2 linked regions of the Homo sapiens genome follow. The protein of the gene in region 2 purifies or fractionates together with the protein of the main gene of each other region. This does not show direct contact. Each region holds a gene or a part of one and is shown on either strand. Other genes may lie near its edges.

Evidence for each region.
Region 1: the proteins of SEC24B (region 2) and SEC16A purify together in Homo sapiens (affinity purification with western blotting; 2 studies listed by BioGRID and IntAct, with this or other methods). This does not show direct contact.

What each region holds. Positions count from the first base shown.
Region 1 is NC_000009.12:136,478,762-136,494,527, forward strand, and holds the start of SEC16A (protein transport protein Sec16A), read right to left. Parts: upstream 4,280-15,766; 5' UTR 4,177-4,279; intron 70-4,176; 5' UTR 1-69. UniProt on the Homo sapiens protein: Acts as a molecular scaffold that plays a key role in the organization of the endoplasmic reticulum exit sites (ERES), also known as transitional endoplasmic reticulum (tER).
Region 2 is NC_000004.12:109,424,352-109,440,490, reverse strand, and holds the start of SEC24B (protein transport protein Sec24B), read right to left. Parts: upstream 6,677-16,139; 5' UTR 6,622-6,676; coding exon 6,489-6,621; intron 1-6,488. UniProt on the Homo sapiens protein: Component of the coat protein complex II (COPII) which promotes the formation of transport vesicles from the endoplasmic reticulum (ER).

The sequences.
Region 1 (15,766 bases), on a different chromosome or scaffold from region 2:
AGTTCGAGGCTGCAGTGAGCTATGATTATACCACCGCGGTCCAGCCTGGGCAACAGAGCAAGACGGTCTCTATTTTAAAAAAATAAATAAATAAAAAGTGACACAATCATTTTTTTAAAAAGCACTGCAAAATAAATATATTCATCTAAATGCCTTTTATCACACCTCTTCATAGGTCTCCGTTTTTGTACTGTGACTGGCTTAAGGTCTGAAAGGACCACCAGCAAGATGTTACCTTTGAACTGGAGCCGTAACTGTGCCTGGAATGGAAACTCCCAGGAAACTTAAAGCAGCTTTACAAGGCACAGACTGGATTCCAACACTTTCAACAACAGGCAGAATTGCCAAGAAACCTCTTACAGAAAAGAAAGGGGCAAAAACCTCCATCAGTTTTTAAATAAAACATAGTAGATACAAACTTGAATAGTTAACCTGGCCTCTTAAGGCAAAAATTCAAGGACTATATCTTTAGGAAAGTTCTTTTCTTTCTATCAGTCTTTCTTCTTGTCAGCACCACCCTCATGAACAAACAGATAAGTTTAGCCAATCAAAGGAAAAATTAAACCAAAGGGGAGGACTCTGTAGTTTAATCCACACATTTTTTTTTTTGAGACGGAGTCTTGCTCTGTCGCCCAGACTGGGGTGCAGTGGTGCGATCTCGGCTCACTGCAAGCTCCGCCTCCCAGGTTCATGCCATTCTCCTGCCTCAGCCTCCTGAGCAGCTGGGACTACAGGCACCTGCCACCATGCCAGGCTAATTTTTTGTCTTTTCAGTAGAGATGGGGTTTCACCATGTTAGCCAGGATGGTCTTGATCTCCTGACCTCATAATCCACCCGCCTCGGCCTCCCAAAGTGCTGGGATTACAGGCGTGAGCCACCGTGCCTGGCCAATCCACACATCTTTGCAGATGTATATTATTTTGGTCTCTTGGAAATCTTTCTGATATTCAGATAAAAGAAGAAAACACTGGCCAGGTGCAGTGGCTCACACCTGTAAGCCGAGCACTTTGGGAGGTAGGAGGACCACTCGAGTTCAGCAGTTTGAGACCAGCCTGGGCAACACACAGCGATACCCCATCACCAAAAAAAAAATGCCGGTCGTGGTGGTGCGTGCCTGTAGTCCCAACTACTCGGGAGGCTGAGGTGGGAAGATCGCTTGAGCCAGGGAGGTTGAGGCTGCAGTGAGCCTTGTTCAAGCCACAACACTCCAGCCTGGGCGACAGAGTGAAACTGTCTCAAAAAAAAAAAGAAGAAAACACTGATCAATGTATTTTAAGTCAAGCTATTTACTAGGAACAGCAGCAAAGGCTTCATGGAGGTTTTAGGCTCTCATCTGAAAACAAAGAATGTTCACAGCTCTATTTTATATGGACTGAAAGGAGAACAGGCAGAGCATCTTCCTCTGATCTGTGCACTGGCATTATCTTCCACTGGGTCCTACCAGCTGCACAGCCACAGCAGACACAGCGACACCTGCAACCACGGCCAGAACACGCAAACTTCCAAGCACCTCCTGAAACTCTGCTGCCAGAACTGGGGTCCTACCTCATCTCTCAAGACATGGCCTTCCCCGGGAAGATCCTTATCATCCTCAAAAGCTTTTGTTTGCTTTAAACACAGAGCACGGGCCTAGAGGTTTATTCCTTGGCTGCTGCTGTGAGAGCAAAACTGAGTGTCCAGGTGAGTGGCTCGAGGCAGCCACTCCTCTTTCTGCAATGTATTTTTGTCTATAAAATGCGAGAATCGATGTGATTATTTTTTCCTAAAAAACCCGGGTTTAATCTTATGAGATTCTACTCACAGTGGATTCTGGGATGTCCTAATCCCACCTGCTGTTTAACAGGGGTGGCCGGGCACGGTGGCTCACACCTGTAATCCCAGCACTTTGGGAGGCCGAGGCGGGCAGATCAAGAGGTCAGAAGATCGAGACCATCCTGGCTAACACGGTGAAACCCCGTCTCTACTAAAATACAAAAAATTAGCCGGGCGTGGTGGCGGGCGCCTGTAATCCCAGCTACTCGGGAGGCTGAGGCAGGAGAATGGCGTAAACCTGGGAGGCGGAGCTTGCAGTGAGCTGAGATCGCGCCACTGCACTCCCGCCTGGGCAGAGCGAGACTCCGTCTCAAAAAAAAAAAAATTATTCCGCAGCTCTCCTAGACTAAGAGCTTTTTTATGGCAAACATTATCACTTACAAGGAGCATTCCAACCTTCATGCTCCCTAATTGAGAGCTTTTTAGCAACATGCCACTTTCATTTGGAACAATCTTGTGACTTGAACTGATTTTTTTGATCTTTTTCTCTACTCACCAGGAGAAAAACAATGCAACTGCCTATCACCTATGTCACCACTACAGGGAATTTTATTCTTTTTTTTTTTTTTTTTTTTTTTGAGACGGAGTCTTGCTCTTTCACCCAGGCTGGAGTGCAGTGGCGCGATCTCGGCTCACTGCAGGCTCCGCCCCCCGGGGTTCACGCCATTCTCCTGCCTCAGCCTCCAGCGTAGCTGGGACTACAGGCGCCCGCCACCTCGCCCGGCTAATTTTTTTTTGTATTTTCAGTAGAGACGGGGTTTCACCGTGTTAGCCAGGATGGTCTCGATCTCCTGACCTCGTGATCCGCCCGCCTCAGCCTCCCAGAGTGCTGGGATTACAGGCATGAGCCACCGCGCCCGGCCCAGGGAATTTTATTCTGTAACCTCAAGTCATCTAATTCTTTTATTGTTCCAAAGAGGCCAGCTGATCTTGAAAATGCAGTATTCATAAACCTAGCTAGTCAGTTAAACTGCCTTGTAACCATGTGGATACCTAAGCAAAACTCTTTTTAGTACAGTTCTGGCTACAGAACTGAGGCATTTAAAATGCATGCACACCCCTCTCCTCTTGCTGCCACTGGCTTCATATTTTAAGTGAGGAAAACAATAGTGTGCCAGGAAGCCCCTGAGTTTACCTACTGCCTACAGTCTCCCTCACGGTGGCTGCTAGTGACGCCCTGTCAGACTGTGGGATGCTTGACACAAAGACATGATCAACTCCAACTCTTCTAAGTTAGAATCGCAACCACATACAGTTAGATGTTGAAGAGGAAGCCAGCGACAGAGGAGGCCAGCAGCCTAACACTGATGAAAATGACGAAGACCCTGGTATTCATGAAAGATGCTTACAGAAGAAGAAATCACATTAACATTTACCCACTACCATGACCTCTTGCTGGATTTGGCAAAAAAAGACAAAGAAAAAGAAAAAAAAAGTGCCCACTGCCTCAAAGAAAACTTTAAGTACAATTTTGAGACTCACTGTAGTAACCACTATTAACAGTAAACGAGGAACAAGGAACAAGAAAGACACGCTATTTTGCCTCTTGTCTACAAGATACCAGCACCTGAAACTTAAGAAAGGGGATGAGGAAAAAACGCAGGGAGGCTGCATTGTGCTGAAACTTGCAAAAGTATCACTTCTAGGAAGAACCGTCTGCGGTTCCGTTTGCTTCGTATTGCCACATGGGGGATGGGAAATACCTCTTTGGTTAACATCGGCATCACACATGTAAAACAAAATCTTAATATACAATCCACACCCAACTTACAAGCCATTTAAAAGTGTTCTTAAGCGGCAAAAACTGACTTTAAATGGCTCTGATGTTTCTGAAGGCTCTACTGTAACACTTCCATCACAAAGGGGCGAGCCGGATCACACACACTCCTCTAACCCTCGGCCTCTGTTGCAACATCCTGATCGCCCAATCAAGAAATTACAAACAAACAACTCTGCTCTTTGGTTCAAATGTAAATGTGTCTCTTCACCAGCATCGCTAAGGAAGCCTTCTAGCCGGTGAGGACAAGACACGCTCATTTGAAAAGTTAAGAGTCTTACGAGGGGTGCCTGGGGGTCCAGCCTCCCGCCCCGGGAACCGGCGTCACCGCAGCCCAGCCGGGTCCACGTCAGTCCCTCGAGTCCCACGGCGGCCCGCGCCGCGTCCGGCCTTCCGCTCTGGCCCGGGGGCCCGGACGTCTGTCCCCTCGACCGGCCCCGGCGGGACCCGAGATGCACCGCCCGCTCGGGGCTGGGCCCAGCCGCCTCCTCTCCTCCGCGCCCCGACCTCCACGGCCTGGCTCCGCCGGCCGGCCTCCGCCTTCCTCCTCCCGCGCTCGCCCCCTCACCCGCGCTCGCCCCCTCACCCGCGCGGCTGAGACCGATCCCTCAGGAGCCGCGGGCGAAAGCCCACCCGACGCTGGCGACGAGCACAGACACCTCAGCCGCCGCAGCCATCTTGGCACATCCGGCTCGGGTCTCCGCGGCCGCCGCGCCGCCGACGTGTCCGGCTTACGACATCAGCGCGCGCCCCGCCCCTGGCCCCGCCCCTCGGCTCGTCGGCCCAGACGCGTTCTCTTTCAGCCCTTCACAGCCCATCCCTCGGCCCCGCCCCTCGCCGGCGTCCGTCCTCCCCGCCTCATCCCTCTGTCCCGCCCCCTCTGCCCCCGCCCCTCGCCGGCGTCCGTTCTTCCCCGCCTCATTCTTTCGTCCCGCCCCCCGCCCGTCTTCCACGCCTTATCCTGTAGTTCCCGCTCCCCTTGGCCCCGCCCCTCTTCCGTCGTTCCTCGCCTCATTCTTTCGTCCCGCCCCCTTAGCCCCGCCCGTCGTCCGTCTTTCTCCGCCTCATCCTGTCGTTCCCGCCCCTTTGGCCCCGCCCCTCGGCCGTCCTTCCCCGCCCGTGGCCCCGCCCCCCTCCGGCGTCCGTCTGCCGCCTCACCGCTTGGCCCCGCCCCTCGCCACCTGCCCGGCCAGGCGCGCCGGGGCCGTCCCAGTACGTCGCCCTGTTTACGCTGGCTCTTTCTCCCAGTCTTTTTTCGTTTTAAGATGTGAGAAGAGATGGGATTCTTCAATCAAGGCCACAAGCGGGAAATCAGTCTGCAGGACCGATGCCAGCAGGCTCACGCACCGAGAACGGCTACTCCGCCCAGCTGAGAAGCGCGGGGCCCTGACGCGGGCGCGCTCCTCGCATTCTTCCGTTGGGCTGGGAGGCTGGAGGGCAGGCGGCGGCGGCCGCGCATGCGCCGGGAGCGGCCGGAGCTGCGGGACGCGGAGGGCCGACTGCGCCTGCGCGCTGGTTGCCTGGTTACGGCGTGGCCGCGGGCACCGAGCGGCGCCGGAAGTTGGTCGATGGCTGCCGCCAGTCCCTGGCCAGCGTCCTGGGGTTTCCCCGACGCATCCTCTACTGTCCCTTCGCTCTGCACAGAGGCCCGGGCAGGGAGGGGCGGCCCGGCCACCGCGCGGAGCCGGGTGTCCGCCGACTCGCAAGGGGGACGCGCGGGCTCCTCGTCCCCAAGCTCCGCCCTGCGCCTTTGCTGCGCCGGGCCCTCCCAGGCCCACCCTGGCCCCAGCCCTGCTGTCCTCCCGGGGAGGTGCGGCCTACTCGGTTCGTTCCCCCGGCCGCCAGCCCCACAGGGGCGCTGGGGTCCCAGCCTTGGCTGAGTGCACGTCGGTGGCGAGTGGGCCCGGGCGCTCGGGCGGCCAGAGCGACCCAGCGGAGGGGTGAGGCGGGTAGGCGCTCCTGTGCCTGCCACGGCCAGGCCAGGCAGCATCCACGCCCTCCCGCGGAAGATCGCAGGGAACAGGTGGGCACTATCCTCTGTGCCCTCATTTTTCGGAGGAGCCGAGGGAGGCTGAGCGGTTGAGGAAGCGGCCAGCCATGCCGGGCCCACTCACCTGCACACCTGCCTGGCAAGGGCAGGGAAGAGCCGCGGCCTTCCTCTGCTGCTCCTTCCAGAGGGCAGGCGCCGTGGTGGGGGTGCCCGCCCGATGGCATCGCGGGAGGCTGAGCTCCCAGCAGCGGCTGAGGTCCTCCCTGGGTGGGAGCCACCCTTGTCCCCAGCTGGGCCGGCGGCTGGTGAGGGAGGGGGTGATATCCGTGCCACGCCAGCAGGGCCGCAGGCGGTGCAGGGAGAGCTTCAGTCCGGCTGACGTGGCACCAGGGCCAATCTGCTCAGCTAACATTTGCCTTTCAGGAGTCAGATTCCTGACCTGTTTGAACAGAGTTAGGGAGCACGTGGTAGGGCCCAGCCCCAGCCCCGCTGCCCCCATCTGCTTCTTCCCAGTGGTCGAGGCGCTCTGCACCCTCCGCGGAAGGAGGTGTCATTGTTTGCCCTTTCCAAAGAGGGGGATGCAGAGGTGGATGCTGCCTCTCAGGCGTGGGGCTCGCCTTTTGCCGCTCGCGAGTTCAAAGAACCCAAGAGCCAGGAGCCCAGGGCTCGACCCTCTAGGGTCCTCCGAAACCCTGTGGTCCCACCGGGGTGGGCACTAAGCTATGGGAGAGACCATAGCTGCAGAAACCAACCCTGCCCTAGGCATAAAATGCAAGGTCTCTGGACCTCAGGGCAGGGATGTTAGACAGCGGCTTCTGTTGGCTCCTAGGGGTGTGAATCACCACATCACCTGCAGGGGGCGCGGCTGTCTTTCTTCCCCCTCTTCTCCCTAATCCTGAGTGCACGGAGACAGCTCTCAGCAGTTTGTAGCCTGATGTGGAGTGGAGGGTTCCTGCACCCTACACCCGAGCCCATCCAGCCTCTGGGCCATAGACCCTTCCGTTGAAGGCCCAGCCTGCCCCTGAGACGCTGTGTGCCCTTTTTCAACTTCCTTAGTCTCTGAGCATCAGGTCTTCATCTCTAAGATAGAGCAAGATGAGCACCTAAACGTTTCAGGGCTGAAATGGGGTTGCCAGGACAACAAGCATGGCAGGGGCGAATGGGGACATCAGGTGACTGACTGCGAGCCAGCAGAGGCCTCCACCCAGTGCTGGGAGGTGTCCCGCCGGTGGTGGCCATCACTATTCCTGGTGGGGCTTTGCTGCTTTTGCCTGCAGCATCCGCTGGTTTCTCCATTCTCCAAGTCTCTGCCCCTGCTCACACCTGGAGGCTGGACACAAGTGTCACCACTTCCCTGAACCCCCCTAGGTGGGCTGGAATCAGCATCTGGTGCAAAGCTCTGTGACCACTGCTGTACCACATTATGCAGAGCACACAGGACAGGCTGGTGCACCTCCAGGCTGTGCCAGGAAACCCGCTGCCTTTGCGTCACCACAGCCTTGGTCACAGCGTGACCTTGGTGCCTCCGACGGGTCAGCTCCTCCCATTAGCCATGCTGTCCAGCACGGGGGCCGCTGGTGCTTGCTGTGAGACTGAGCTGGGCTCTGAGTGTAAACTACATGGTAGGTTGTGAAGGATGCAAATATCGAATCAATCATTTTTTATTGCATATTAAAATGACAATATCTTGGATGTATCAGATTAAACAAAATACTATTTAATTTTATTTCACCTGTTTCTTTTGTTTTTGACATAGCTGCTGGGAAATGTAAAACTCCACATGGGGCTGGTGTTACATTTCCACTGGACAGTGTTGGTCTAGAAGGCAGGCACTCAGCACCCCTAGCCTGTGCTTATAGCCTCCTATGATAGGGGCCTGAAATGCCAGAGGCTGATGGGTGGACCTGGCTCTTTGCTGACAACTGGCGGGCCAGTGGCGGTCCTCCAGGGAGCCCCCAGCAGAGCAGCAGTCTCAGTGAACGCAGGACGGCCCCTCACTGTGAGCTTCTGCTCCTCTTTCCTACCTGGTGTAAAATAGCAGTGGCGAGTATGTCTGGGTGCTTGTGGAGGTTTACTGGGCAGGCCTGCTCCCTGCCGGACACTGTCCTCAGCCCCTGACACAGACCCTTAGTCCTGGACGCTGAAGCTGGAGGCTTGGCCTGGAGAGAGGAAGGGGCAGTCTCTGTGAGACGGTTAGCTGGGTGGTCCAGGCAAAAAAACATATGAAGGCCTCCAAGGTGGAGAGCACTGACACGGAGCTCTTCCTGGAGGAGGAGGGAATAGGGCTGGGAAGCTGGAATCAGGGGAGAGGAAGCAGATCTGGAGGCAGGGTCCGTAGAGTTTGTTCTGTGGCGTTTGTTCATCAGGCCCCTGCAGGGGTTCCCTGTCAGCATGCCACCAGGCTGGCCAGAGGGTGGGCCAGGCTTCCTCTTCTTACCCTCATAGAGGAGAGGAAGTCACCTCTGTGAGGGGAAGGCCAGACCCCCAGGGCCATGGTGGGCAGTGTGGAGGGAGCTTCAGTCCCACTCACTTCCATGCACAAGGCCTGCCAAGCACACAGCATAGGGTCCGCAAACATGCTCACCACGCTGCCACCCCCTTCCCGTGTTCTACTCACCTCTGAGCCCCACCCTAACCTGGAGTGCTCGCCCGGTGTGCTCGCCAGGGGTGTGCAGCGAGACAGCACTGTCCACTTTCTAGGCCTTCCCAGGGCTGACATGAGGCTGAAGGTGCATCCCCGCCCTGGCACATGTGCCCTTGCTCTCGGCTGCTGGGGAATGGGTCCCACAGCGCCTCCTCCCAGCACAGGCAAAGGCATCTCCTTTTGGGCGCCCACCTGGCTAGCAGAGCACAGGTAAGATGGCTCCAGCAATGGTGGGCTAACTACCGTGTGTCCAGCTGTACTGCAAGCTTCCAGAAGTCAGAGACCCTCAGCCACTACCCAGGTGTTCAGCCTTGGGCAAGCTACCTGGCCTTTCCAAGCCTCTGCCTCCTCCCCTGTAAAAGAAGGTGACAGCCTTGCCCTTTCCCGGCCTCCTGCAAGGACTTCCTGGACCTGACCTCACAGGGTGGCAAGCGTATCCTCCACACCAGGCCTCCCCGGAGGCACAGGGCACATTGACGGCATTGCCAGCAGCCTCGTTACTGCAGGAGCGTCATGCTCCTCATCTCCAGCATCTTCAAGCATGTTGGGCACATAGCAGGTCTCAGAGAACATTTTTCTGGAATCATTGAGCCAAGTACTTACCATGTAAGGTGCTAAAAAGCACTAGGAATGAAGCAGAAAGCTCAAGGCTGATGTCGATGTCACAGTAACCTGGGACCGCAGGCCCCCAGGGCCACAGGAGGAACTGCTGGCTGTCCTTGAGCTGAGGCAGGGTCTTGGTAAGCTCACGAGTCCTCTATCCCCAAACCATGCACAGATGTCTGCTGAGTCCCTGCTGTACCCCAGGCACTGCTAGGAGCTGGGCTGTGGCCGTGAGACAGACAAGCCCAGACTCTGCCTCCGGGGAACATGGATGCTGGCTGGCCACAGAGGTGCCCATACAGAGGGCACCATGCAGTGTCTGCTGGGGACAGGCAGGAGGAGAAGGAGCATTTCTGGCTGAAGTGAACAGTCCACATGAGGCTTCTGCGGGGTGAGCGGCCAGTGGGCGTAGGCTAGTGTGGACTCTGTAGGCTTGCTAAGAGACCCGCAGGTGGTGTCTGGAAGTATAGGAAGCTTCCAGAGGCTTTTCAGCCAGGAGCGATGCAACCAGTTTGGGCCCCAAAGGCTCTCCAGGTTAGGGTTCGAGCTAGGGGCTAGGGAGAGCCAGGGCCCAGGAGGCAGCCTTGGGTGGCCTAGGAGAAAGAGGCGCTGAACCCAGGAGAGTCCCCAAGAACCCGGGAGAGTCCCCGAGGGCACAACCCCAGCACAGCACGGGGTTCACACACAGCAGGCAGGAGACAGTCCTGAGCATTGAGTGATGATTTAAGTGGTGGACATGGACTTGGTGGCCTGGGGACTGTAGATAGGGAAGAGAAAAGGGCCCGGGTGGAGCTGGGAAGAGCTCCAGTATTCGATGCCAGGCCAGTCGTGGCATTAACTCCTGGCAAAGTATCCGATGCCAGGCTGGCCATGGTATTGACTCCTGGCAAAGTGGCCCAACAACCCCCTTCTCCCCTCTGAGCAGCCGTCTCCCTGTCTGAAAAGTCACCAGGCTGGATGGCATCAACTCTACAGGCCTTCCTGCTCCTCTGAGGGCAGGTGACTCCTCGTGGTTTGACACGGACCGGGAATCACATAGCCCTGGCTCAGTGAATGGGCGAACTTGGCTAAGTCGCCTAACCTCTTTGAGCCCCAGCTTCCTCATGTGTAAAACAGGATAATAGCAGTGTCGCGGGGGATGGCCCTGGGCGTGGGGTGAGGGCCATTTCTGCCCTGTGGTCACTCGGGAGGACCTGTGGGGCGCTGGCAGAGCAGTGCCACCAGGGGGAGGCAGAGAGCCGCCTCTGAGTCGGCCAAAGTAACAGGTGCACGCTTGCCAGGTGAGGTTGCTCCCATCTGTCGTCTCAGCATTTTGGGAGGCCAAAGTGGGAGGATCACTTGAACCTAGGGGTTTGAGACCAGCCTGGGCAACATAGCAAGATTCCATCTCCACAAAAAGAAAAAAAAGTAAAGTTATACACTTTTCTTTTTTTTTTTTGAGACCGAGTCTCACTGTATCCCCCAGGCTGGAGTGCAGTGGTGCAATCTCAGCTCACTGCAACCTCCTCCTTCCGAATTCAAGCAATTCTCCTGCCTCAGCCCCCCCAAGTAGCTGAGATTCTAGGTGCCCACCATGGTGCCCAGCTAATTTTTGTATTTTTAGTGGAGAGGGGGGTTTCACCAGTTGACCAGGCTGGTGTGGAACTCCTGACCACAGGTGATCCTCTCGCCTCGGCCTCCCGAAGTGCTGGGATGACAGGTGTGAGCCACCACGCCTGGCCGTAGTTATAACTTTTCTAAGGTTCATTTTATTAAATGGAAAAATGCCAAACAGAACGACAAAGGCTGTGGTAGAATGTGCACGTTTGTGTGGACCCAGGGCACATTTTCACCAGAAAATCCCGTGCGATAGAGTGGAAGATATACCAAAAGCCACAGCAAATATCACGCGTGACTCCGCAGAAAATTATAGATTCCTAACAAACACTGAGAGTGTGTCCTGTGCTGTAAGGTCCAGGGATGGGCCACAAGTTCAAGGTTGTGTGAAGAACAACGGAAACCCACCTCTGAGGCCCTGGGCACCTGGCACCTGTCGTGTTGGGCATGAATAAAGCTTCGCAGCTCAGTCCTGCAATCTCCATGAGCCTAGACTTGTCCATCTTAAAATGTAGACGGTTAGGACACCTGCTGAAGGGGCCGCCAGGCTTAACTGTGCCAACACGGCATGCAGGTGGAGAACAAAGAATGCGATTGAAAACCTCCTAACGATAACAAGAGCTGTTCCCTTTCTGAGCCCTCACCCCATGCCCAGCGTGCACCAGCAGCTCACCATCGCAGGCCCAGGGCCAGCACCCAGGTCCCCACTTGACCCACGAGGACACTGAGGTACAGCAACAGCCAGGACAGCAGCCGCCAGGTGGAAAGCAAAGACACAAAGCAGCCAGATCGGGAGTCACGTCGGGGCAGGCGACTGAGGCGCCACCCAGCCACCTTCAAGATGCAGATTGAAGAACAGCCTTTCCCAAAGCTCGCTCACTCACTGACCCTGCGTCTTCGTCTGCAAAGCCTGAGTAACGTGGGAGGCCCTGCAACGCCCCCTCTGAGAGACCTCCACTAACGCCAGCACTTTTTTTTTTTTTTTTTTTTTTTTTTTTTTTTTTTGTGAGAGTGTCTTGCTCTGTCGCCCAGGCTGGAGTGCAGAGGCATGATCTCTGCTCACTGCAAGCTCCGCCTCCCAGGTTCACGCCATTCTCCTGCCTCAGCCTCCCAAGTAGCTAGGACTACAGGCGCCTGCCACCACGCCCGGCTAATTTTTTGTATTTTTTAGTAGAGACGGGGTTTCACCGTGTTAGCCAGGATGGTCTCAATCTCCTGACCTTGTGATCCACCCGCCTCAGCCTCCCAAAGTGCTGGGATTACAGGCGTGAGCCACCACGCCTGGCCAACGCCAGCACTTTCAACGCACCGGGACCAAGCTGGACCCGGTTTTGTTTTGAAACACTTTTACTTTTGCAGACGAATACGTCGGTGTCCCACCAGGAACCGCTGCTGGTGGATGCTCACCACGGGAAACAGCCGCGTGACGCTCCCCCTTGTCTGCCTCTGCCCAGTGCTGCCCCCTCCAGCAGAGCTCCTCATGTGTGGTTCGTGGATTTGGGTCCACGATGAGATAAGGAGCCACACAGAACGAAATCAGTCCACCGCTGAGCACGCAGTTGAGCCCCACGGACACCCTTTGCAAGTGAGACTTTTGGGATGAAGGCAGCACAGGCCTGTCGATCCCTGGAGCAGCCCGGGGGCTACGGCACCGTGCTTCCCTCTTGGATGGAGGCAGCCCTGCCTGCCGGGGGCCTGATTTGTGGGCCCTGATGAGTTGGTGCCTCCGGGCTCTTGGGACCCTCCTTTGCTCTATCCAGAGGGACGCAGCGCCACACTCGGGGTTCACGCCGGCAGCGGCGTGGAGTGAGTCACCAGGCTGAAGATACACTTGGTGTTTTCCTGCGCTGGGTGGAACTGTCTGGAGCCCCCTTGGCATCCTGCTGAAGAGTCCGAATCTGGACGTGAGCCTCCTGGAGATACTGAACACCTTTTAAAGTGTGGCCAGGCCCAATCTAGGGTGCTGTGAGTGTACTGTACATCCTGGGTTTCAAAGACACAGTACCAAAAACAAACAAACAAAAAGAATATAAAACATCTCATTCACGGCCGGGCGTGGTGGCTTACGCCTATAATCCCAGCACTTTGGGAGGCCGAGGTGGGCCGATCACGAGGTCAAGAGATCAAGACCAGCCTGGCCAACATGGTGAAACCCCCTCTCTACTAAAAATACAAAAATTAGCTGGGCGTGGTGGCAGGTGCCTGTAATCCCAGCTACTCGGGAGGCTGAGGCAGGAGAATCGCTTGAACCCGGGAGGCGGAAGTTGCAGTGAGCTGAGATCGCACCACTGCACTCCAGCCTGGGTGACAGAGGGAGACTCTGTCTCAAAAAACAAAAAACAACAAAAAAAAACTCATTCACTTTTTATGTTGTGTTAAAATAATATTTTTGATATATTGGATTAACTAAGCTGTAGTATTAATATACACTTTGCCTGTTTCTTTTTACCTTTTTAATGTGGCTACTGAAATATTTAAAGTTGCATATGTGGCCAGGCGCAGTGGCCCACACCTGTAATCCCAGCACTCTGGGAGGCCAAGGTGAGGAGAGGACTGCATGAGCTCAGGAGTTCGAGACCAACCTGGGCAACAAAGTGAGACCCCATCTCTGCAAAAAATAACAAAAAAATTGGGTGGGTGAGGTGGTGTGCACCTGTAATCCCAGCTGCTAGAGAGACCAAGGTGGGAGGATCACCTGGGCCCAGGAGGTTGAGGCTGCAATAAGCTATCATGGCACCACTGCACTCCAGCCTGGGTGACAGAGCAAGACCCTGTCTCAAAAACTTTTTTTAATTAAAAAAAAAAAATAACATATTGAGGTGAGACTCACAGAACCTAAAATTAACCACTTTAAAGTGTACGAGTTAGGCCAGGTGCAGTGGCTCACGCCTGTAACCTCAGCACTTTAAGAGGCCGAGGCGGGTGGATCACTTGAGATCAGGAGTTTGAAACCAGCCTGGCCAACATGGTGAAACCCAATCTCTACTAAAAATACAAAAAAATTAGCCGGGTGTGGTGGTAGGGGCCTGTAATCCCAGTTACTTTGGAGGCTGAGGCAGGAGAATCACTTGAACACAGAGGCGGAGGTTGCAGTGAGCCAAGATCACGCCACCACATTCCAGCCTGGGTGACAGAGCGAGACTCCGTCTCAAAAAAAAAAAAAAAAAGTGTCCGCGTTATTGGCATTTAGTGCACTCGAAGGGCTGTGCACGCACCACCTCTCCCTGGGCCCAGAACATTTGCGTCACTCCAAAGTAAAACCCCGGGCCGTCTTCATCCACGTCCCTACAAAGGACATGAACTCATCATTTTTTATGGCTGCATAGTATTCCATGGTATATATGTGCCACATTTTCTTAATCTAGTCTATCATTGTTGGACATTTGGGTTGGTTCCAAGTCTTTGCTATTGTGAACAGTGCCACAATAAACTAAAACTTAAAGTATAAAAACAAAACAAAACAAAAAAAAACCCCGGGCCGTTTAGCAGCCACTCCCCTTTCCTCCTCCCCCCGGCTCTGGGAACCATCAATCTACTTTCTGTCTCCATGGGTTCGGTGACCACAGGCACCCCATAGAAATGGAGTCACTGCACCTGCGGCCCTTTGCGGCCGGCACCCTTCACTGAGCACCGTGCTTCCAAGGCTTGTCCGCATGGTGGGTGTCAGCGCCTCCTTTTCTACGGTGGAATCATATTCCCTCGTGCGCATTCGTCAGGGTTCTTCCGGCAAGCGGAGCCCATAAGACGTGCCACTGGAGAGGTTATTGCAGGGAATTGGCCACACGACCTCGAGGCCTGCAGTTCCCAGGGTCTGCAGTTGCAGGCAGGAGGCCTGATGGCGTTGCGAGTCCGAAGGCCGGTGGGCTCCAGGCCCAGGAAGAGCCCACGTTTTCAGTCCAAGTCTGAAGGCAGGAAAAGACCAATGTCCAGTGCAAGCGGTTGGGTGGGAGGACCCCTGGCACTCGGCCTATTGTTCTCCCCAGGCCTCAGCGGACCGCACGGGGCCCACCCACACTGGGGAGGGCGGACTGCCTTACCCGGGCTGTGGATGCAAATGCGAACCTCATCCAGAACACCTCAGAGACACACTCCGTTTGGCGAAATGGCCCGGCCAAGCTGACACTAAGGTTCACCGTCACAGCAGACGGTTTTGCTGACCCGTCGTTGGCAGTGGACGCTCAGGCTGTCTGTGGCTGTACTGAGTGATGCCGGGACAGCAAGTGGCCACGTGCGTTTGTTTGAGTCCCTGTTTTCACTTCTTTCGGACAGACCCCCAGGAGTGGAATTTCAGGGTGCTGGGAGTTTTATGGGCAGGACTCCGGCTGGGTCACCCCCTTTGAAGACAAGAGTCAGGCCACTCACTGCAGTTCCACGGTGGCCCCTCCTGGTCCTGGTGCCCAGCGCTGGCTGGCAGACGCAGCCCCCAGCCATAGTAGAGGCCTCGGGCTCACATCCCTCCTTGGAGAGACTGGGCCCAGGGCAGGCAGTGCTTTGCAATCCAAAGAGGGATCTCAGACTCCCCACCGCTCTGGTTTGAAGCCACTGGCCTGCCCTGAAGGTCTGGGGCTGGGCAGAGGCCCAGGCAGTGGGGAGAGAAGGGGCCCACCCTTGTGTGAGGCTGGCAGCTCTATTCAGGGGCAGGGCCCCAGGACCAGGCCGCCTCTGCCTCGCTCAGCCAGTTCCTTAGGATCACACAACTTTCCAGACTCTGCCACGACCCATGCTGCCCTGCTCATAGGCTTCGACAGCTCCCTTTGCCCTCCTATAGGGGCCAGAGTCCTCCCTGTGGTCTCCAGCCCGTAGAGGGGTCATGCCACTGCCTCAAGGCCCTCCCTATGCAGCCCCCTGCCTGCTGCAGAGCTCCCTGAGGGGCTGTCCCCAGGATGGCTGGGTGGGACCTTCATCCCTCCGAGGCTGAGAGGAGAAGAGCCCCGAGCTGCCAGGAGGGCCAGACTCACGCATGGTGTCCTGGGAGCCGTGTCACCCCAGGCACGAGCCCCACCTCCCATAGGGCTGCAACCCCCTTGCTGCTGTGTGTCCATCTCCCTACAAAGGGCCTGGACCAGGCAGGCTGCAGACACCATGGAGTCCCTGGAGGCAGCGTGGTCCCCACACCCCCGTGGGCCAGGACTAGGCAGCCTCACCGTCACTCTCCCAGCAGAAGGGGCCCTCGACTCCTGGCTCCCTCAGAGCATAGCAGCCCTGCCTCCCTCCCAGAAAGGGAGCCAAAGGCCAGAGCAGAGGGGAGTGGAAGCCAGATCACCATCAGTATCATTTTTATTGCAAATCAGTTAACAAAAAAGATGAAAAAAATACATCATCTACAGTTCCTCATGTAGATCA
Region 2 (16,139 bases):
GCCTATTGAAAATAGTAGCTTCTCCAGGGCTGAATATATATAACATGATCTTTTCTAACAATGCTGACAATGAAGATGCCTCATTTCTAGGAAAGAAAATTATTCTAATACCTTTAGCATAAAATACTTCAGGAATTACAGATGAATTGGAAAGATAAAGTAACATGAAATACTAGTGGTGGCAATGAATATGGTTTACAAAATTAATTACTGCTACAATCCCAGAAACTTGGGGGGAGAGGAAGGGAGTGAAAAGACACTGCAAACAACTAAAGCAATATATATAGCAATAAAAAATAAAAATTAAACCCAGATATAAGACCCTTGTTTACATATGGAGTGAATACTTTAAGATCTTTTTTTTTTTTTTGCGACGAAGTCTCGCTCTTGTCCCCCAGGCTGGAGTGCAATGGCACAATCTTGGCTCACCACGACCTCCACCTCCCAGGTTCAAGTGATTCTCCTGCCTCAGCCTCCCGAGTAGCTGGGATTACAGGCACCTGCCACCACGCCTGGCTAATTTTTGTATTTTTAGTAGAGACGGGTTTCATCCTGTCGTCCAGGCTGGTCTCAAACTCCTGACCTCAAGTGATCCGCCCGCCTCAGCCTCCCAAAGTGCTTGGATTACAGGCGTAAGCCACCATGCTCGGCCTACTTTAAGATCTTTGAGATATCTATCAATCAGCTTAGAGCCAGGCTCAGTGGCTCACGCCTGTAATCCCAGCACTTTGGGAGGCTAAGGCGGGTGGATCATCTGAGGTCAGCAGTTCAAGACCAGCCTGATCAATATAGTGAAACCCTGTCTCTACTAAAAATACAAAATTAGCCAGGCATGGTGGCGCATGCCTGTAATCCCAGCTACTCGGGAGGCTGAGCAGGAGAATCGCTTGAACCCGGGAGGCGGAGGTTGCAGTGAGCTGAGATTGTGCCATTGTATTCCAGCCTGGTCAACAAGACTGAAACTCAGTCTCAAAAAAAAAAAAAAAAAAAAAAAAAAAAAAAAAAAAAAAAAAAAATCAGCTTAGGAGGAAATTATGTATTCAGACACAGTCACTTTAATACCACAGGGGTATATTCATGAGAGGACCTGATGCTTCCGGTTAGCTATAAATGGAGACTAGAAACCTGAGACACTGATGTGGCTCTGATCAAAAGGAACTTATTTGAGATACACTAGGGAGATTTATATCATTTTAAATGCTGCATGTGCCCTCAAAGTTTAAGGGTTTCCAGTGACTGACCCGATAGTACTGCTGTATGAATGGTATGTTTATTTACATCTTCCATAGTGAGTTCTAGTAATTCCCATTACTATCTCATCTTTCTTGCATTATTAACAATTAAAGTGATAAAACTGTAGTTTCATTCTGGAAAAGGGCATATGGAAGGATTAAAATATACTTTCATTTGAAAATGAACACCATTTGCTTCCTAAAAGTAAAATTAAAAAGCAGCAGCTTATTATTAAATCTGACTGCCCCATCCCCTCACCTCCCAACAAGTTCATTACCAGGCTATTACTTTAGTCAGTCTTCCTACGTTTGAGGACTCAGCTTTGGAAGGAATCCCAAAAGGCAGAGTAAAAGGTAAGAAATATTCAATTAATGCTTGGTATGGAAATACAAATAGTTTTAAAAATCCATATATTGCTCAATGAAAAATGAAGGATAGAAATACAACACCAAGGAAGGAAGCTTAAGAGAAAGATTTCACAGACTTGAAATCAAGTCAAGCTGTATCTTCGAATAAGTGGAGGAAACATGCTAGCAGTTACACCTAGAAAACAAGTAAAAGTGATCATGAAGACTAGGTTTTCTGCCTCTCTATTCCTTTCTTCTCAAACATCAAAGTTTCTAAAAAGAATTTTCTTAGAGTCTGTTAACAGAAAGAGATCTTTAGGCTGGGCATGGTGGCTCATGCCTGTAATCCCAGCACTTTGGGAAGTCTAGATGGGAGGATCACTTGAAGCCAGGAGTTTGAGATCAGTCTCTACAAATTTTTTTTTAAAAGTTAGCTGGGTATGGTGTCACACACCTATAGTCCCAGCTACTCAGGAAGCCATGGTGGGAAGACTGCTTGAGCCCAGGAGTTCAAGGCTGCAGTGAGCTATGATGGCAACACTGTACTCCAGCTTGGGTGACAGAGTGAGATTCTGTCTCTAAAATAAATAAATAAATAAACAAACAGACAAAAAGTTTTAAGAAGAGATCTAGAGTTGGAATTAGCAAAAATAAAATGGACTTCATTTAATACATGTCTAATGAATACCTGTAACTTGCCTATACTGTTCTAGGCTCTTATTATACAACGTGAACAAGAGACAGAAAAAACTGCCACCCTCACAAAGCTTTCACAGAATTGGTAGAAAATGTACCTACTTAACCTTTCTGAATCTTCATTTCATCTGTAAAGGTAGGGATCCAAACTATGTGTTTTTCAAACTGTGCTTAAAAACAACTGAACTTCTACTTCTATTTTAACCGCAACCACTTTGCTTTTTTCTGATTTCTCTATCAGGGATCTATATACAATATCCTTTGGAAAAACAAATCTTAAAAAACGTTTGTGGGCCAGGCACGGTGGCTCACGTCTGTAATCCGAGCACTCTGGGAGGCCGAGGCAGGTGGATCACAAGGTCAGGAGATGGAGACCATCCTGGCCAACATGGTGAAACTCCATCTCTACTAAAAATACAAAAATTACCCAGGAGTGGTGGTGTGCGCCTGTAGGCCCAGCTACTCAGCAGGCTGAGGCAGGAGAATCGCTTGAACCCAGGAGGTGGAGGTTGCAGTGAGCTGAGATCGTGCCACTGCACTCCAGCCTGGGCGACACAGCGAGACTCCGTCTCAAACAAACAAAAAAAGTTTGCCATTTGCTAACCACTTGTAAAAGAAAAAACAGGGCCCAGCCCAGTGGCTCACACCTATAATCGCAAGACTTTGGTAGGTCTAGCCAGGACGATCACTTGAGGCCAGGAGTTAGAGAACAGCCTGGGCAACATGGTGAGACTCAGTCTCTACAAAAATAAAAATAAAAATAATTAGCCAGGAGTGGTAGTGCATGCCTATAGTCCTAGCTACTTGGGAAGCTGAGGCAGGAGGATCACTTGAGCCCAGGAGGTTGAGGCTGCAGTTAGCTATGATGGAGTCACTGACTCCAGCCTGGGTGGCAGAGTGACACCCTGTCTCTAAAACAAACAATAAAAAACAAAAAACTTCTTTCACTCTACTCTCATTCTGCACAGACCACTTCTGTGACCAGATGTGTGAATTTTTGTTTTTATTTTTCCCCAACAGACACCAACTGGGGGTCCTCCAACTCAATTCAATTCTGACACTACCTACCTGAAGTTAGACTCGGATCCCACAGATTAAGGGTTCAGTCCCACAAGATGGCTCCCCACTTCAGATGCCTATCATAAGTATCACAAGTAGCAGGTTGCCATCTGTACTTCTGAGGAACCAGTTACAAACTGGAGTTTCTACTACCCCCTCCTTAGGTTCAATTACTTTGGTAGAAGGGCTTGTGGAAGTCAGGAAAACATTTAAATTTATTGTTTATTATAAAGGATATTACAAAGGATACAGATGAACAGCCAAATGAAAGAGATGTACAGGGCAAAGGATGGGGGCAGGTGCCGCCACCCTCCCAGCATCTCCACATGTTCAGCAACCCAGAAGGTCACCAAATCTTACTGTTCCAGAGTTTTTATAAAGCTTCATCTCCAGCCTATCCACTCCCCTTCAAAGGGGATGATGGGTGGGGACTCAAAGTCCCAACTCTCTAATTACTTGGTCTTTCTGGTTACCAGCTCCAGCCTGAGGCTGTCTAGGAGACCCATCCTAAGTCATCTCATTAGCACAAACTCAAATGTGATCAAAAGACTCCTTATGAGTAGCAAGCGACACTCCTATCACTCAGGAAATTACAAGGGTTTTAGGAGCTGTTACAGGAACCCAGGACAAAGGCCAAACGTATTTCATATCACACCACAACACTGAAGTGAGTGATTTCTAGGTACCATTCCAGTTTTACAATTCTGTCTGTTTTATGCTCATATTTCTGACCTATTTCTTTTTCACCATGTCTGGAATTCCATAGAGATATATTAAAAGGCTAACTACTTTTGTAGGACTGAAAAATAAATGAGAAACCCAAATGACTGCTTACTACATGCTGATACCACGTAGCAAACTTTTTTTTTTTGAGATTAGCAAACAAAACAAAAAGAGATTTAATCTTGTTTCTCTACTTAAACTAATCCCTTCCACAAAAACAAAAATCCTTCTGGAGGATAAGGTGTGAGGATCACCTGAGCCCAGCAGACCAGCCTGGGCAACACAGGGAGACCTCGTACTCTACCTGACCCTAGTTCTTACACTTTACCATAACTTTCAAATTTCCTAGCATAACATTTAAGGCCTTTCTGCAACCTGACCCCTTTTAACCTGCTCCTTTCGGCTTCGATGCCTTGGCTTCCCATGCCACCCAGCACCCTCTGCACCTCTTGACTCCTTCCACTTTCCAAGCATGCCCTGCACTTTCATATTTCCAAACTTTAGTTCATGCTGTAACCTCTGCCTAGAGTCAACCTTTCCCTCCCACCCCAACCTGTCGAGTCCCTCAAGGCTAGCCAGAACCAATTCAAACATTACCAAATACAGGGCAAGTCAGGAGAGAGGCAGGGACTCTGTCTCATCTGCTACCCTAACCTTGAGTCCCCAACTGGTAAGCATGCAATAAATGTTGAAATGATTATTGCAACATTAAAGGAAAGTAGTGATTATAAACAAGAGAACTCAAGCATCATCTATATTTGGCATCAAAACATTGATTTGTTCTTACAGATTTTAACATCCTGATTACACTTGGCTGAGTACATATCCTGGCATTCTTGAGTGTTCACAAAATTTATAAGGCTGTAATAAACATTTGCCACTTTAAAAACTGTTCACTAAGATGATAATGCATATTCAGAAAATCAAGGAAAGACACAATCCTTGAATCACTGGTAAACATGAGTCTACAATGTTCTAAAAGACTTGGGCTCTTTTACTAAATTATCGTGTTCTAGTTCCTTCATAAAGCTATTTTAAAAACAAACAAAAACAAGAACTTATATTAAGGTTACAAGAACAAACACTGCTCACAAATAGTATTTTTACATTTGTTCAGAACAGGTTTATATCCAAAAGCGATTATAGTAAACAATGACTACTGAGAGTACAGCATGTAATACTGATAGGTAAGGCTGATCCAAAGAATATTAAGGCTAAAGTATCACTCAACTTCTGATCCTCAGGACAAACGATACACTTCATGTTTGAAAAGCATCAGTTGTAAAACTTAGATGTTGATTAAACTAATTCATAAAGTCCAGCAGATTTTCATTAGGAAATTAGATAAAACAGGTCAATCATCTGGAGAGTACTAATGCAGTTTGGTTCTCGTACCAACACAGGACAGAGGTATTTTTCTAAATTCAGTCAATTACTTTCCAAGGTTCTCATCTGACATACTAAGAAGTCTGTAAGGAGAATTCCTCCACCCTTGGCCCCTATCCGCGAACATTCCAAATCTCAGCATTAGGGAATGCATATCCATCATTTTGCAGCCTACTAAAAGCCCACGACCTTAATATGAAAGCGGCTTTCGTGCTGCATTTGGCTGCTGCCTGTATGAAGGCCCTGCCTCAAAGCAGGGCCAACTCTGGCACGTTTTTTCATCTCTGAAAGTGGAGCTAGGAAAAACACCCAGATCTAAAGATGTTCGTTTAAATCCGTTTACATCTGCTCCCTTTCAAACACTACAAGCAAACTCCAAAAGCTTGAGCAGCAGCCGCAGCGGCAATGACAGTTCTTGAGGCCGAACTGGGTCAGGGTTACAGTTACACTTATATAGCATATTTACACCCTTTTGTCTACAAACTTGAGTGCAAACTTAAGTTTCCTCAAGGCAGCGTGTTCGCTGGGCCTCGGGAACCGAAGCAATTTTCCTGAGACAGGAAGGGCACAATCCACCCTGCTGGGTGGCTGCACCAGCCTTCTCCGGACCACGCACTCAGCGGCCTCGGCTTCTGGCCAGCTCTCGCAGCCAAGGGGTCGCTCGGGGCAACTCGCCCGCGTCCAGGCTAGGTAACTGGGTTTTACTACGTGGGCTCCCAGCTTTTCAGTCGCCCCTACTCGCCCGAGGCCGTTTCGGGCCTGGGGTCGCATTACATAAACAGCCACGGCCCCAGCTTTCCCAGGCCGGCCCCCGCCCCCACGCCAGGGGCGTCCCACCCCCGCGCGCCCCGCGCCGTGCCTTCCCTGCCCCCTACCCGCACCCAACCCGGACCCCGCGGCCTCCGCACCGCGCCCGCTCCCGTCCCTCGGGCCGGGCCTGGCCCCGAACGCCCTTCCCGGCCCGGCCCGCCCCGCCCCGATGTGGCCGTGCAGGCCGCCCAGCCGGTGCTAGGCCCCGCGCTCCGCCCGGGCCGCCCGCCTCACCGTTCTGCTGGTGCGGCGCCGGGCCCGCACCCGGGCCCGCGGGCGCTGCGGCTCCTGAGACGGCCGCTCCGCCGAACTTGGGCGGGATCCGGGCGCTGGCGGCCGGGTGAGAGGACCCGGCGGGGGCCGACATGACGGCGCTGGTGGCGACGGCGGCTCCGCTTCAGGGAGGTGGGCGGAGGGAAGGGAAGGCGGGGCCGGAGAGGAGAGAGGAAGAGGAAGGAACGCGCCTGGCGTCACTGAGGGTGTCACCCGGGACCGCGGCTCAGGTACCCAAGCTTCTCCGCGAGTCCAGCGCTGCCACTCGGCGGCCGCCGCGGGCGCGGGGATCCTGGGTCGCTCCGCCTTGACCCACGCGCCCCACGCCCCGGGACTTACACCTGGGGTCGCTCCCCGCACGCGCGGGCCTCGCGCCGGTGCCGCCGCAGCGCCCCCTGCAGGCCGGAGCCGAGCTGGCCCAGGCCTGAGTCTGGCCCGGGGTTCCGTGGCCCCAGTGCCGGCCCCGCGGCTGCTGCTCCGGCCCGGCCAGGTGCCTTCGTGTTGAGGCGAAAGGACTGGGCCTCAGTGGGTGAAGGGACCGGGTGGCCCGCTTCCACCTAGGGCAGAGGCTGGATCGGCCGCGGCGAGGCTGGGCCCAGCATTACTGGGAGGGGAACTTGAGAGCCGCGGGTTGATGTTCGGAGCTCAGGCGACGACTGACCACCCACCCTTCCTCGAAGAGGAACAATGGCTTGGGTTTGGTTTTTAATTTTTGATTCCCCCACCTCCCCTTTCTTGATTCCAAAGGAAATATAGCATTCAAGCGCCATGTCTGTTGGGAATATATAATTCCTTGGCAAAGAAAGAGGAAACATTTCTCTGATAAACACAAGAATCTCAGTAAGAATTGCATTATTGAGAACTTTTCCCACTGATAAAGTAGGGAAGAGGAAGGGGAAAATAGGGTAAGGGAATGCTGGAAGACAAACTTTAAACTTTATCTCCTTTTTTTTTTTTTTTTTTGTCGATTGTTGGTGCATCCTGTTGGTGTTCCGAGAAGTTGTGGCTCAGCTTGCTTTGTCTACATTAGTGGAATCTTTAAGTCTTTCTGGTCTGTCTCAGCATACTCACTGGCAGGCCCTAGACTACATTACCCAAGTCATTTTGCCGTCTTGGAATCCTGAGTATGTCATCACTCTGTATTGGAGATGAGATTGCTCAGAAACACTGAATTCAGAATGGGATCTAGCAAGATGGTATTTCTGGAGCAATAAGTCATTTACTGAATGATTATGCAAAGCATAAATTGCATTGTAGTCCTAGAATAATACAAAGCTTCCCTTTAGTTGTTGCCGTAAATTAATAACTGGCATTTTAATGCACTAAATGAATTTTAGTAGTTAGATTTATATCTTTGACTTCTAGGAATTTCAACTACATTAGAGTTCATATACACAAAAGGGGCAAGCCCTTTTCCACAGCATTTCCAGCTTCTCCACAGAAACCTAGCCCCACATGAGCAAAAGATCACACTCTGTGCTTCATCAAAGAGATTACACAATTACAGATTCCAGCATCTCCCAGGAGTCCTTTGAATTTGGATTAAGGTCTATAATTACGTGGGTAAGGGAATAACTAGGTAATTGGCTTTCTGCACCTGGAATGTATTCTCCTGGGTATAAGAGGCTCCTTTTAATCAGAAGTATATGGGATGAAAGTGAACCCTGTCTCTTAAGGGGAGACTCCTTAAGAGGAGGATTGGGGCCCTGTGTTTTAATAGATCTTCTCCACAATCTTTAATACCTAAGCTCCTTCCCCTTGTCCACTAATTTGCTGTAGAATTTTTCTAGCATGTTTATGATGGTGTTCAGGGCACACTACCCCAAAATATAACACCTTGGCATATTGAATGTTTTAAGCTGATGGAATTTGAGAAATGGCAGGTGTGAGGACTCTGACCTTCCCATGAAGCAGGTCATAAGACCCTCATGTGAGAGATGCCCTCTCTATACCTGGAGAAAAGAAGCAGTCTTATTTGTGAAGACAGAGAGACGCCAAGAGGAATCTAAATGAATAGGCCTTGGTAGGTTTCCCCCAGTTTACTGCCCTTAGCCCATCTTTTTGTCTTATCACAGTTTTCCATAACAGTCTACTCTTCATCAAGCTTGGTATAAAACGCTCAGGTTTCTTCAGGTCTTCGTTTCCTTATGAAGGCTCTGGTGCCATGTAAAACTTACATTAAATATCATACATTCATATGCCTTTCTTTTGTTACAGGAACCCCAGACGCACGGGCCTTGTGCTGTCGCTGCCGTGGCACCCCTTCTAGAAGGTAGATATTTTTCCTCCTGACAAACACTACAACCTTTATGAAAATATTTCACTCTTTTGCTTTAATTTCCATTACTACTATAAGTGAAAAAAGGATGAAGAATTGAATGAATAGGATTGAACCATCTACTAGGCACTGTGCTTGTAAATCTAGATATGTATTTTTTTCTATTTAATCCTAACAATAACTCCATGGGATATTTTTCTTATCCCTATTTTATCTGTGAAGAAACTAATGTTTATAGAGCTGAAGTAATCTTAGTAAAAATCATGAACCTGGAATTAGCAGAACCAGCGGTCAAACCAAGGATTATTTAGCTCCAGACCATTGCTTTACTATAAACTATACTGGGTTAATTTACATTTTTCTTCATAAAGCTATGCTAGTTATGATTTACTGTCTTGCTGTCAAAAGATTTTCAGTTTTTCATATTTAGAATTTGTTCCAGTGTACTCTACAATGGTAGATCTCAGAGTTTTTGAAATGCAGATTTGTGGGCCCAAACCCTGGACCGTATACTGATTCAGAAGTGGTGGAGATAGGGCCCTACAGCAAGCTCTCCAGGCAATTCTGATGCATGGGGAAGTTTGAGGACCACTGCTTTTGAATAGCAGAGTTAAGCTGAATTGGTTCATTCTCTTACTTTGGAAGATGATGGTCCTTTCTTTCAGGACATCTCTTCAATCTTTTACAGACCAATAAAAGTGATATTTTGTAGATTTGTGATTACAGTGTCACAAATGCCAATTATGATGTTTCCTATGTCAACTCAGATTCTCTGAGGTATAGTGTTGATGCAGATGCTGAGGCCAAGTCTGTTCAGTGAGAAAGAGTGGGTAATTGAATTAATCTCTGCTGCATATATGGAAGTGAAATAATACGTGTGTTACTATTTGTCATCCCCAACTTAGGACTCTATTCTCTATAACAGAAGTGGGAGCCTTGGACAACTGAACGCCTATCTCTAGCTCAAGAAATGTCAGCTCTTTTTTTTTTTTTGAGACTGTCACCCAGTCGGGAGTACAGTGGCGCCATCTTGGCTCTCTGTAACCTCCACCTCCTGGGTTCAAGCGATTCTCCTGCCTCAGCCTCCTGAGTAGCTGGGGCTACAGGTATGCACCATCACTCCTGGCTAATTGTTGTATTTTTAGTAGATAATGGGGTTTCACCATGTTGGCCAGGGTGGTCTCAAACTCCTGACCTCAGGTGATCTGCCTGCCTCGGCCTCCCAAAGTGCTGGGATTACAGACGTGAGCCACCATGCCCAGCCAAGAAATGTCAATTCTTTATCGTAGCCTGGCTTTCCATATTTCTCACTAGGGTTTTTATTCTCTAGTTTGTAAATCACATTTGGCGTTTGTAGATCACTCCTTCCCTTTTAGTGGCATTCTCTATTAGGTGTCCATCTCCCAATATGAAGAAACAGTTTTCTGCTTTTTCCTCCTTTATCTGATCCATTTACAGATTTATTACATTTATAATAGGCTAGGTATTGGGGATACAAAAATGAATAAGATATGGTCTGTTTTCAAAGGTATGCAGAAACTTTTCTATATATTCCTACTGACTTGTATTTGTATTTCTTGAATTAAAAACAATCCTGGCTGTGTTTTTTTTTTTTTTTTTTTGCTCTTAGTGAATCTTTGTTTCTTCTTTTCATTATGGCATTCCAGTTGAGTTTCACCACGCATTATCATGAGAATAAATAATTTCACTGACTTTAATAATATTTGATCACTTATGTTGATGTCATTTAACTCTCATTTACATTTCAGTGGTCTAAAACACAACTAAGATACTAAAAGAAAAATAAAAGATGAGATTATTGGCAAATAATTACCACATAGTCAACTCATGAACAATAGTGCATGCACTTACAGGAAATTCTCTGATTGTCACATAAACTATTTGGCTGTTGTTTCAGACATGCTGTAATTTCTGTAGTTAGACACTTAACTAGTCCACAGCAGATTAGAAACTATGAATCACAAGGCAAGGGAAGGAAATGCTGTTAATATAGGTAGTTTGAGAGGAGCAATCTCTATTAGTTGGCAGAATAAGCACAGGAAAAACAAGACAATTAGAAAAATGAATTAAAAATGCACGGTATTCTGACACAATTAGTTACATTGAACAACCCTATGTATTCCACTGGAAATATGATAAACATAGTCCACAAGTCTCTGCCATCTGAGAAATTTATAACCTAGTATTCTGAAGGAAATAAAGTGAAGGGAACTGTCACATACCGAACACCTGCTTTATAACTTGAAAGCGCTTTATGACATCACCATATATCAGGACCAAAACAGATATTCATAGATTTGGTCCTCAATTGCAAAGAAAAATTAAATTATGTTCTGTACTCTGTTTCAGAAGACCAGAGGAATACAGAACCCATTTTGGAACTTTAGAAACTCTTACATATGAACAGGTTAGGTTCCAAAATTTCCATTGTTCGTAAGTCCCAATACTCACAAGTTCGGAGTAAGCCACATATGCATTTCCAGAAAACAGAAAAGTGAGGCAGTCCTTTGAAACTTTAGAACAAAGCTTACTCTTCTTTTTACTGATATAAGTTGTATAGTGGTGCAACCCAGACTAAGGCGCATATGAATCTCTTGATGATCACGTTAAAATGAAGATGCTTATTGGGTAGGGTTAGAATGACCTGAGAATCTGCATTTCTAGCAAGCTCCCAGGTGATGCTGATGCTGATGCTGCTGATCCATGGACCACACTTTGAGTAGCAAGGTTCCAAAGGGCATTTTTTGTTGGATTTACATTTGAAGTCCCTTAAGGAAGGAAATGCCCCTCCTTAATGAGCCTAAAGGAACTTCTTAGCAGCTGGCGTATATTCACACCTGCTACCACTCATGTTGATGTTGTACAGATTAAAATGTGCCTAGCGCTCTTGCTTTCCATAACTTTACTTTCTTAGGCCTTTAAGATACTTGAACCATCTCCTAATGGGTTAATGGGTGCCCAGAGTTGACACTGATCCTCTCATCACATGGTCAACAGTGTGTACATTTTGTCAATTACTTTTCTTCTTACTGATTATTGTTATATAAAAATGGTGAATTAGTCTGCTTTGGCCACCATAACAAAATACCTTAAACGAGGTGGCTTAAACAACAGAAATGTGTTTTCCCACAATTCTGGAAGCTGGAAGTCTGAGATGAGAGTGCCAGCATGATCAGGTTCTGGTAAAGGTTCTCCTCCTGGCTTGTAGATGGCCACCTTCTCACTGGTCCATACATGGCAGGCAGAGATGGGGAGAGAGAAAGTTGTCTGGTGTCTCGGTATAAGGGCACCAGTTCTATTGGACAAGGCTCTGCCTTTACGACTGCATTTAACCTTAATCACCTCCTTAAAGGCCCTCTCTTCAATATAGTTACATGTGGGGTTAGGGCTTCAACATATGGATTTTGGAGGTACAGAATTCAGTCCATAGCAAATGGCATTTTCATATGGCATGAGTCACTCTTTGCTTTTCAGAATTGTTCCCAATTTCAACTGGGTCATACCACTTTATTGTATATTTATTACTATGAATTTTCATTTTTCAATCTCTGCTTTTTTAATCTTCACATCACTCTTACTACCACCTTCAAAATTCTCACTGCTTTCTCACTGACATCAATGTTGGGATTAATATTTATAAAGCACATTTTAAAACATAAACTCATAATAGGCCCCAAATTAATAAAAAGATGACCTACATCAGGGCACCACTACACCAGGGCACACTGAATGAGTGCAATTCATTAAAAGATGTATTAAGATATTAATCCTCTTCAGACATTGGGACAACTAGGGGGTACTCAAGTGATCCTCAGGCTAGTCTCCTTTGGCTGCAAGCATCCTTGTCTTTTACCCAACAAAAATATCCTTATTTTCTAGCTATGTTATAACATGAAGAGGCTGGGAAGCACTGCCCTAGACTAAAATTACTAAATTACTGTGCACAATCTTCAGTGCCATCTGCTGGAAGGAGACAAAGTTACTATACTATGGTTCTAGAAGGTAGATTTATGTATTCGTTCATTCATTTGAGACAGGGTCTCACTCTGTTGCCCAGGCTAGAATGCAGTGGTGCAATTACAGCTCACTGCAGCCTTGACCTCCTAGGCTCAAGTGACCCTCCTGCATTAGCCTCCCAAGCAGCTGGGATTACAGGAGTGCACCACCACACCGGGCTAATTTTTTAAAATTTTTAGTAGAGGTGAAGTCTTGCTGTGTTGCCCAGGTTGGTCTCTCAAGTAATCCTCCAGCCTTGGCCTCCCAAAGTGCTGGGATTACAGGTGTGAGCCACCATGCCCAGCCTAGATTTATTTTTATGTATAAAACTAAGTTAAAAGATCATACGAAGGGGTATTTCTGTGTTACAAAGGATTGGTTTTAAAACTTTTTTTACTAGTTGAAAGGATAAACTTCAATTACCTGAAAAATGTAAAACACAACTGTTTCTTTAAAAGAGAAAAAGCTAGACAAAAAATGTTGTTGGGGCAGACACAGTGGCTCACACCTGTAATCCCAACAGTTTTGGAGGCCAAGGTGGGAGGATCACTTAAGCCCAGGAATTTGAGACCAACCTGGGCAACAGAGTGAGACCTTGTCTGTACAAAAAGTTAAAAAATTAGCCAGGTGTGGTGGCGTGTGCCTGTGGTCCTAGCTACTCAGGAGGCTGAGGCAGGAGGACCACTTGGGCCTAGGAGGTCAAGCCTGCAGTGAGCCATAATTGTGCCACTTACACACTCCAGCCTGGGCAGCAGAGTGAGACTCTGTCTCAAAAATAAATAAATAAATAAATAAAATTGTTGAACATACTAATTCAGTTAGAAAGGACACACTTTTAAAAAAGAATATTGATAAGTCAGAGCACCACTATGATGGCAGGGTGTTTACAAAGCTTGTGGTACACCATATACAAAAATCAACTCAAAATGGACTAAAGACTTAAAAACCTGAAACTATAAAACTAATAGGAGAAAACATAGGGAGAGATCGTGCCACTGCACTCTAGCACAGCGACAGAGTGAGAGTCTGTCTCAAAAAAATGAAAAAATTAAAAGATTTTTCCGTATAACAACTTTCTTCTTCACTAACGAAAAGTAGAAATCTAGTATAGTCCTGTAGACAGTTTCTATGTAATAGATTAAAACAAGTTAAAACAGGAATTTCTCCCATAAGATTCTCTCCTTCTAAATACAACAGAGTAGAAGGGGCAGGTGTGGTGGCTCATGCCTATAATCCCAGGACTTTGGGAGGCCAAAGCAGGAGGATCGTTTGAGACGGGAGTTTGAGATCAGCCTGGGTGCATAGAGATACCCTATCTCTACAAAATAATTAGAAATTAGCCCGGCATGGTGACACAGCCTTGTAGTCCTAGCTGCTCAGGAAGCTGAGGTGGGAGGATTGCTTGAGCCCAGGTGGTTGAGGCTGCAATGAGTCAGATATATATATCTGGCTTTATATATACACCTTTGTTTTATATGTATATTATATACTTTATTATATATACATAAAACAAAGTAGAGAATGTTAGTCCCCGGAATTTCTCTGTAAGAAAATGTCTCATGCAAAAATCATTCAGGAGGAGAAAAATATACTTTGTAGGGGATGCTACATGCTTCTTGCCAAGAAGAGAGAGAGAAATGGGAGGCCATTAGCTGTCTTCTATGTATGGTTGGTGGGCAGGGGTACAAGAGAAGCTTCTCACTTTTACACCATGTGGGAAGAAGGTAGTGAACAGGGTAGAAAGAAAACTGTGAGATAACAACATGGAAGGATTGGGAGATTGAAAGAGGAGGAGAATTTTAGCAGCCGTCATAAGTAGGGAACTTTGGAGGGAGGAGAGATATAGAGAAGTATTGTTGGAAGCTTTACTTTCTATTTTTCTGGGAGAGACCCCTGTGTTACACCTTTACGGAAACTCATAATAAAAATCTCGATCGTTTATCAACATTAGTCTCATTATTTTTGAACGAGAATCCCCACAGAAATGATATCACATGACACTTGAGTTGTAAATTGTACAAACTGCATTCAGAAGCCATCACCAAGGCCTAGCTGTTCTTTTTCCTGAATCTAGACCATTTATGTCATATGAGTATCTACTTTCCAAAACTGAAAGCTCCTCACTTGGTCTTCCACAGAACTCCAGTGGAGCTCTAAATTGTATAGCTGAAAATGGGGCATATAATTCATACACTTTCACCATAATTCAGGGCAGGGAGGGAATGTCACTGGTTATGGTATCTGTTAGTTTTCCCTGTTAACTGACATTTGGAAAATATGTGCTCTGAGACACTCACACTTTGGGTTTAGATAACGTTTCTTCTCTCGGTGTCTGTGTTTCATGTTGTTGTTGTAATTGGCCAATAGCGCTGTAGTTGCTGCCAATATATAAGTTTGTTGCAGATACAAAATATGGACATTTTGATAGTTAATGTGCACACACACATAATACACAATAGGCATAGTCATAATTTTGTTACATGATCATTTGGCACAAATGATGAAACTGTGCACAAGTTACTATAATTAATGCCCTATACTTTCTTTTTCTTTCTTCTTTTTTTTTTTTTGAAACAGAGCTTTGCTTTTGTAGCCCAGGCTGGAGTGCAATGGCTCAATCTCAGCTCACTGCAACCTCCGTCTCCTAGGTTCAAGTGATTCTCCTGCCTCAGCCTCCGAAGTAGCTGGGATTACAAGCATGCACCATGCCCCGCTAATTTTGTATTTTTAGTAGTGTAGGGTCCAGCCCTACAGGGCCTGTGGGTTTTTCCTTAGTGTGCAGAGATGAGAGATTGTAGAAAAATAGACATGAGACAAAGAAATAGAAGGAAACACAGCTGGGCCCAGGGGACCACTACCACCAATGCGCGAAGCCTGGTAGTGACCCTGAATGCCTGGACACACTGCTATTTATTGTATGCAAGGCAAGGGGGCAGGGTAAGGAGTTTGAGTCATCTCAAATGATTAATAAGGTCAAGCAAGTCACGTGTCCACGTGACGGGGGGCCTTTCCCTTTGTGATAGCTGAAGCAGAGAGGGAGGACAGTATATGTCAGCATTTCTTCTGTGCACTTATCAGGAAGATCAAAGACTTTAGTACTTTCACTAATTTTGTTACTGCTATCTTTTAAGAACTTAAAAGGAGGTGCCAGGTGTACAGGCAGAACATGAAAGTGGACAAGGAGCATGACCACTGAAGCACAGCACCACAGATGTTTAAGCCTCCAGATGACTGCGGGCAGGCCTGGCTAATGTCAGGACTCCCACAAGAGTTGGTGGAGCAGTGTTCTCTAACTCCCCCCGGGGAAAGGGAGACTC